Linked DNA regions of Homo sapiens. The gene in region 2 interacts genetically with the main gene of each other region. Each region holds a gene or a part of one and is shown on either strand. Other genes may lie near its edges. The genes, in order: SREBF2 and ATAD3A.

What was found.
Region 1: changes in ATAD3A (region 2) and SREBF2 together harm fitness more than expected from each alone (negative genetic interaction), as found in Homo sapiens cells (one large-scale study listed by BioGRID).

The regions. Positions count from the first base shown.
Region 1 is NC_000022.11:41,902,414-41,906,224, reverse strand, and holds part of SREBF2 (sterol regulatory element-binding protein 2), read right to left. Parts: intron 3,256-3,811; coding exon 3,070-3,255; intron 1,363-3,069; coding exon 1,251-1,362; intron 786-1,250; coding exon 565-785; 3' UTR 1-564.
Region 2 is NC_000001.11:1,528,957-1,532,279, reverse strand, and holds part of ATAD3A (ATPase family AAA domain-containing protein 3A), read right to left. Parts: intron 3,058-3,323; coding exon 2,949-3,057; intron 1-2,948. UniProt on the Homo sapiens protein: Essential for mitochondrial network organization, mitochondrial metabolism and cell growth at organism and cellular level. May play an important role in mitochondrial protein synthesis. May also participate in mitochondrial DNA replication.

The DNA.
Region 1 (3,811 bases), on a different chromosome or scaffold from region 2:
AACAATGAGCAGGCTCAGTCAGGCCCAGGGGAGGGAACGCAGACCCAGGGAGAGAATCAAGACGCTACAGCAACTCAGCCTCGCATCATGGCAAACCCAAGCACACTGGTAGAAAACATTCGTATAAAAAGGGGAGGGCATGCTGGGCACAGGCCTGAGGGCAACTGCTCCCTGGTGCTCAGAGACTGCTGTCCCCCAGAGAAAGCCTGATAAAAACTGAGGAAGCAAAAAGGAGAGAGTAGGGTTCAGGAGAGAGAAACTCAGGAAGGCTGGAGGCAGGGGCTTGGCAGCTTGGGAGCTCCCCCTGCTGCTATCAAGTCAGGGCTGCCCAGTTTCTGCCCTGCCACCTATCCTCTCACGCCCACCAGGCCCTGGACCATGGGCATCTAGTGACAGCAGCTTTAAGGGGCTCTGCCCAGGGGTGCACTGGCCTGAGTGGCCCAGAAGCCTCGGCAGGTGACAGCTAAGAAGACAAGGCTCTTCCCCACCACTCTCAGCGGGAAGATGCTGAGGGGGAGAGAGAGAAATCGAGAGAGAGGTGGAGGGGTGGGCTGAGCCTGGTGGTCAGGAGGCGGCAATGGCAGTGCCACCACCCAGCTTAACAATCATCTGCTGGCAGTCGTTGCAGGAGCGCCGGTCGCCCACCTTCTCCAGGGTGCGGGCAGCTTCGGCCAGCAGCACTGCCCGCTGGCCCGGGGAGGAGAGGAAGGAGAGGGGCAGGTGGCGGCAGGCCAGCAGGATGGCGGTGGCCCGCTCTCGCTGGCCGGGCCAGGCATCCACCTCTCCTGTGGGAAGGAGATGTGTGTCACAACCGAGAATCTACCATGAAGTTGGTGCAGTTCCTTGGCGTTACCTGGACTCATTCACTGAACGCTCACATCCATCCTGGGAGGTGGGGTCTGCTGCCCCACCCAATCCACGGAAAAGAAGTGAACTTGTCCAGCCTCTCACGGCCAGCCCGTGGTGGGGCTGAGATGGGCCCACATGACCTGGCTCGAGCTTCTGCTTCTATGCCTGCACCTGTGCTGGGACGCCACCCCAACCCTCCTTCCCTGATCACAGCATGACCCATGACCACCCCAACCCCTGCAACCCACCAAGGGCGGCCTCGGGCTTCTTTCATTCTCAGAGAGGCGAGAGGTGTGCTGGGCACCAATGCCAGATGTGGGAGCTGGGCTGGCCCCTCTTCTCCTCTCTTCCTAGGGCGCAGGGCCTGGCCCAGCCTGTGAGCTGGGGAGGGGTGGACTCACCGTGCTTGGTGCTCTGCGTGGTGCGCCGCCGCAGGCTGTGTTCCAGCAGCTGGTGGGTGCGGGTGGGGCTGGCTCCTGCCATCAGGCGCACGGTGGCTTCATGCAGGAACACCTGGGGAGGTGCCGGGGTGACATCCATCACACCCCTGGTCCCCACCCATCTATGCCCAGGGTAGCTCTCCCTGAGCCATCTCGCCTGCCACCTCATGACATCCCTTCCCACACCACCCTGCCTTGCTCACCCCTGAAAAGCAACCTCTGTTGTCCCGTACTCTGACCCTGAGCCAGGCAGGAAACCTGGCTGAACAGCAGGAGCAGGATGAGAGGAGAGAGAGGCAAAAGGCCTGCTTTTCCCAACTGGTGACAAGAAAGCCCTGGACGCACCTCGTGGGGCTGGTAGACAAGTGCCCTGGGTGAAGCCCCAAGGCCCTGGAGGCTGCCTGCAGTTTGACAAAAGGACAGGTGTGACAGGGACAGAGGGGTGAGGAGGGACAGTTGGGCTGGTACCAGAGAGGTTTGGTATCCTCTTTCCGTATCTTTAGAAAGGAAGAGAGTCTAGAGGTGTGCGGGTAAAGTCTGCAGCGCTTAGGTATGAGCCACTGGTGGGTGAAGGGCAAGGCTGAGGTCTGTCATTTCTTAAAATCTCAAGCTCTTTTTGATGCCTTTATATCTCAGTCTTCAGGGAGGGTCTTCAGTGCTGCCAAGTGGATTCTGGTCCTGGTAGGCAATGGGGAGCCGCTGATGGGCTCTCAGCAGGGAGCAGCAGAATGGAAATGGTATTTAAGAGGAGGCCTTTGGACCAGGCGAGGTGGCTCACACCTGTAATCCCAGCACTTTGGGAGGCCGAGGCAGGAGGACAGCTTGAGGCTAGGGGTTTGAGACCAGCCTGGGCCACATAGCAAGACCCCATCTATTATGAAAAAAAGGCCACTGATGCCAGCCATGCTGTGAGCAGACCAGAGAGCTGACCAGAGTGGGCTCCAGGAGGCAGGGGTGCCGCTCCAGGCCTGGGGTACATGCCCTCTTCTCCACAGTAAGGAATGGCTCTCCGATGATACTGTCTGTTGTGTCTGTCTTGGCTTGCTGCACACAGTGGCCACAGTGCAACCCTGGGTGGGCCCCGCAGCACCTCAGGGTGATGGGTGTGGGGGCTGAATCCCAAGCTCCACGGCAGCAGCCTCGCTCTGAGGCCTTCTTCCAGCCCAGCCCGTGCCCCCTCAATGACACTTGAGTCATCTCACTCAAATTTTTAGAAAAAAATACAGGTACAAATATGTTGAATACATTATATAGCAATACAAATAAACAAAAAAGGAAATAGCTGGAGCCTGGCAAGCCCAGTCATAGAACTTTCCTCCGTGACTTAGTTCAGATCACGTGGCCACTGCCAAGGGGATGTTACCCAGCAGCAGAACCGAAGCCTCTAGCTACTGTGAAAAAGAATGAAAGTCAACGTGGAGCTCGGGACCAGGCCAGGAGCCCTGACTTGCCACCATTGCCCTCAGAGCCCTCCCACCCAGCATGTGCCTGGGGAGGCACAGCTCCCTGCTGGCCCCTGTCTGTGGCAGCAAAGTGTGGCCTGCTCCCTGCTGAGCTCCAGGGCCAGGCATACAGCAGGCACTCAACCAATGTGTGCTGAACACAGGGACACATGGCGCCTAGCCCAGTGTTGGGCACGAGCCAAGCAGGTGCTCGACAGGTCACCAGGCTGACCTCAGAGGGCCAACTCCACAACCACATGCTGGTGCCCATGCTGGGTTCTGGGCTCAGGCCCCACAGGCTCCAATCTGCCCTGCCCCACCAGCCAGCTGGGCCTCACCTTGCGGTATGCTGGGCGGAAGCTGTGTGCCAGCCTGCGCAGGCTGCCCAGGTCCCGTTGGAAGCCCGCCAGTTCAGCGCCTGACGCGTGGTAGGTCTCCCCCACAGCCTGGCTGGCACTGGCCTGTTTTTGCCAGAGCGCTGTCCGTAGCGACAGTAGCAGGTCACAGGTGAGCAGCTGGACCACCTGTGGGGTCAGCCACGAGAGAGGGGAGACAGGTGACTGGCCCATCCCTGAGGCAAGGATCCTAGCACCTACCAGGCCTCTCCCCAGACCAACACTCAGCAGCTCTGGGAGGAAGTGGAGAGCCCCAGAGTCTGGTGAACTCCGCAGGACGTGAGGGAACAGCTCAGGGGAGAACCAGTTCCTTCCATGGCCCCAGGAGGTGGGAGACAAGCCCTCCCCATTCTGCAGGTGAGAAAGCAAGGCTCTGACAGGGACAGCAGCTTGTATAGGGAATACAGCACAGGCAGGTGGCAGGGGCAGAAATAAAACCCTTGTGGGTTGAAGGCGCAGGTTCTTCCACCCCATGGGAGTCCCACCATGGCTGGCTAGGAGGCTGAGATACCCACAAGGTACCAAGGAAAAGCCTGAAGTGGCAGCAGAGCCTGTCGATGGGGCTGGGGGAAGGAGGAGGAGGAGTGGGAGAGGGAGACAGGTGTCTCAGAAGACAGAACCACAGAGTGCCTTAGTGCTTGGGGACTAGGCCTACTGACCCGGCTTTGCCACTTACTAGCTACAT
Region 2 (3,323 bases):
TCAAAGCCAGACAAAGACACCACAAGAAAAATGACATGCCAATATCCCTGATAAGCATCGTTGGAAAAGTCCTCAACAAAATGCCAGCAAAACCAATTCAGGAGTATAATAAAAAAATTATACACCCTGACCAAGCAGGATTTATTCCTGGAATGCAAGGATAGTTCAACGTACAAAAATCAATCAATGTTCCACATAAAAAATGTTCAACATACAAAAATCAATCAATATTAGCCGAGTGGAGGAAGGAAACTACATGACCCTCTCATCTGATGCAGGAAAAGCATTCGACCAAATTCAAAACCCTTTTATGAGAAAAGAATTCAAGATGCCGTGCATGGTGGCTCACACCTGTAATCCCAGCACTTTGGGAGGACAAAGGGGGCAGATCACCTGAACTCAAGGAGATCCACTGCCTCAGCCTCCCAAAGTGCTGTGGTTACAGGTGTGAGCCACCGTGCCCAGCCCAAATTATTATTTTATTTTTTATTTTTTTATTTTTGAGACAGAGTCTTGCTCTGTCGCCCAGGCTGGAGTGCAGTGGTGCGATCTCGGCTCACTGCAAGCTCTGCCTCCCGGGTTCATGCCATTCTCCTGCCTCAGCCTCCCAAGTAGCTGGGACTACAGGCACCCGCCACCACATCTGGCTAATTTTTTTTTTGTATTTTTTATTAGAGATGGGGTTCCACCGTGTTAGCCAGGATGGTCTTGATTTCCTGACTTCATGATCCGCCCATCTCGGCCTCCCAAAGTGCTGGGATTACAGGCATGAGCCACCGCGCCCGTCCAGCCCCAGTTATTATTATTTTTAGTTTTCGTTTTCGTTTTTTGGGATGGAGTCTCACTGTGTTGCCAGGCTGGAGTGCAGTGGTGCAATCTCGGCTCTTTGCAACCTCCGCCTCCCGGGTTCAAGTGATTCTCCTGCCTCATTCTCCCAAGTAGCTGGGATTACAGGCATGCGCCACCACACCCAGCTAATTTTTGTATTTTTAGTAGAGATGGGGTTTCACCATTTGGCCAGATGGTCTCCATCTCTTGACCTCGTGATCTGCCCGCCTTGGCCTCCCAAAGTGCTAGGATTACAGGTGTGAGCCACTGCACCTGGCCTATTACTATTTTTTTAAGATGGAGTCTCACGCTATTGCTCAGGCTGGAGGGCAGTGGCACCATCTCAGCTCACCGCATCCTCCGCCTCCTGGATTCAAGAGATTCTCCTGGCTCAGCCTCCTGAGTAGCTGGGACTACAGGCATACACCACAAATGTGCCGGGGTAATTTTTGTATTTTTAGTGGAGGTGAGATTGGCCTTGTTGGCCAGGCTGCTCTCAAACTCCTGACCTCAGGTGTATGATATTCTCACTTCAGCCTCCCAACGTGCTGGGATTACAGGAGTGAGCCACCGCACTCGTTCCAAATTATTCTTAGTTTTTTTTTTTTTTTTTTTTTTTTTTTGAGACGGAGTCTCGCTCTGTCGCCCAGGCTGGAGTGCAGTGGCGGGATCTCGGCTCACTGCAAGCTCCGCCTCCCGGGTTCATGCCATTCTCCTGCCTCAGCCTCCCAAGTAGCTGGGACTACAGGCGCCCGCCACTACGCCCGGCTAATTTTTTGTATTTTTAGTAGAGACGGGGTTTCACCGTTTTAGCCGGGATGGTCTCGATCTCCTGACCTCGTGATCCGCCCGCCTCGGCCTCCCAAAGTGCTGGGATTACAGGCGTGAGCCACCGCGCCCGGCCATTATTCTTAGTTTTTAAGACAGGGTCTTGCTCTGTAATCCAGGCTGGAGTGCAGTGGCAATCACAGCTCACTGCAGCCTCCACCTCCTGGACTCAAGTGATCCTCCCACCTCAGCCTCCCAAGCAGCTGGCATTACAGGCATGTGCCACCAGGTCCAGCTAATTTTTTCATTTTTTGTAGAGATGGGGTCTTGCCTTGCTTTCCAGGCTGGTCCTAAACCCCTGGCTTCAAATAATCTAACTTGGCCTCCCCAAATGCTGGGAATACAAGCGTCAGCCACCACCATACCCGGCCTCTGCTTTCTTAGTTGTGGAAACAGACCTGGTTCCAAGTGGGGATGGCCTGGAACAGAGACCTCAGCTGACCCACAAGGACGGGGTTTGAGATCTGGGGCTCTTTGTCACAGTGGCATAACCCAGCCTGTACTGACTAATACAGCCCCCTGTGAACCCCGGCTCCAACATTCAAATCAAGGTACTCGGCTGCTTCATTAAGCTGTCACACGTTCATTCAAAAGCACTGCTAGATTGAGGAACCAGGTTGTTACACAGACTCTGCGGACCCCAGAGGTGGTGATGCCTGTGCGTGGCCAGGGTGCCTTCTGCCCCACCAACCTGGTTTTGCTTTTCCAGCAACCCCCAAAGACCAAAGCTTTCTGGATGGCCACGCCCACACTCCTGTGAGTCCTGGCTCCTCAGCCCTGGAGCAGCCACGGAGCTGCAGGAGGGGTGTCCCCGAAGAACAACTGGCTGTGGGACAACCAGAGGCCACTCCCACCCATGTGTCAAGCAGGACCAAGCCCACAGACTTGGTCCAGAAAACACAATGTCCCTCCACCCCGAACCCCCAACTCACATGGGGCCTGTCCTAACGACCATTTACACAGGGAGGTGCCTATTGGCCAAGGTGAGAGTCAGAAGCCTCCAGCCCCACCTGGCAAAGCTCGGGCTACGGCGATGCCAGACTGGCCTCCAGAGAGCCCCGGGTGACTGTCAGCCACCGACATGGCTCCACCCTCCTGAGGGCACGAGCAGGTGCGCGATGCCTCGTGGAGTGGCCTGACTGGGGCAGGGGGCCCTGTGTCACCTCTGTGCACTGAAAACCCCTCAACAGAAGCTCCCGCGTGACACCGGTGCTGGGACAGGCCTGGCGCAACTGAGCATCTCCACAGCAGCTGGGGTCCCGTCTGGGTGGACGTGCCGGAGCCTGACTCACCTGCCAGGACACGGCCAGCTGAGCGATCTCCCGGCCCGACATGCCCTCCGTCAGCCGAGCGACCTCCGAGCACTTCCTCCCGTAGTCAAACTGGGCCAGCTTCAGGCGCCTGGGGAAGGAGTTCCCAAGTGGGCCGGCCAAGGCAGCAGCTCCCACAACACGAGGTGGAGGCCGGAAGACAGGCAGCGAGGCCGACACCCACGCCAAACATCCTCTTTGGAGGGGCTCTCTACTTCTGACAGCCCAGCTCCACATCCTCCCTGCTGCAGGCCAGGCCCGGACTGAGCAGGGAGTGGCTGCAGGGCCTGGAGATGGCCCCAACCACTCCTCACACCAGCCCTGCCCACAGCTGCTCACTCAGCACCCGCAGGGCAG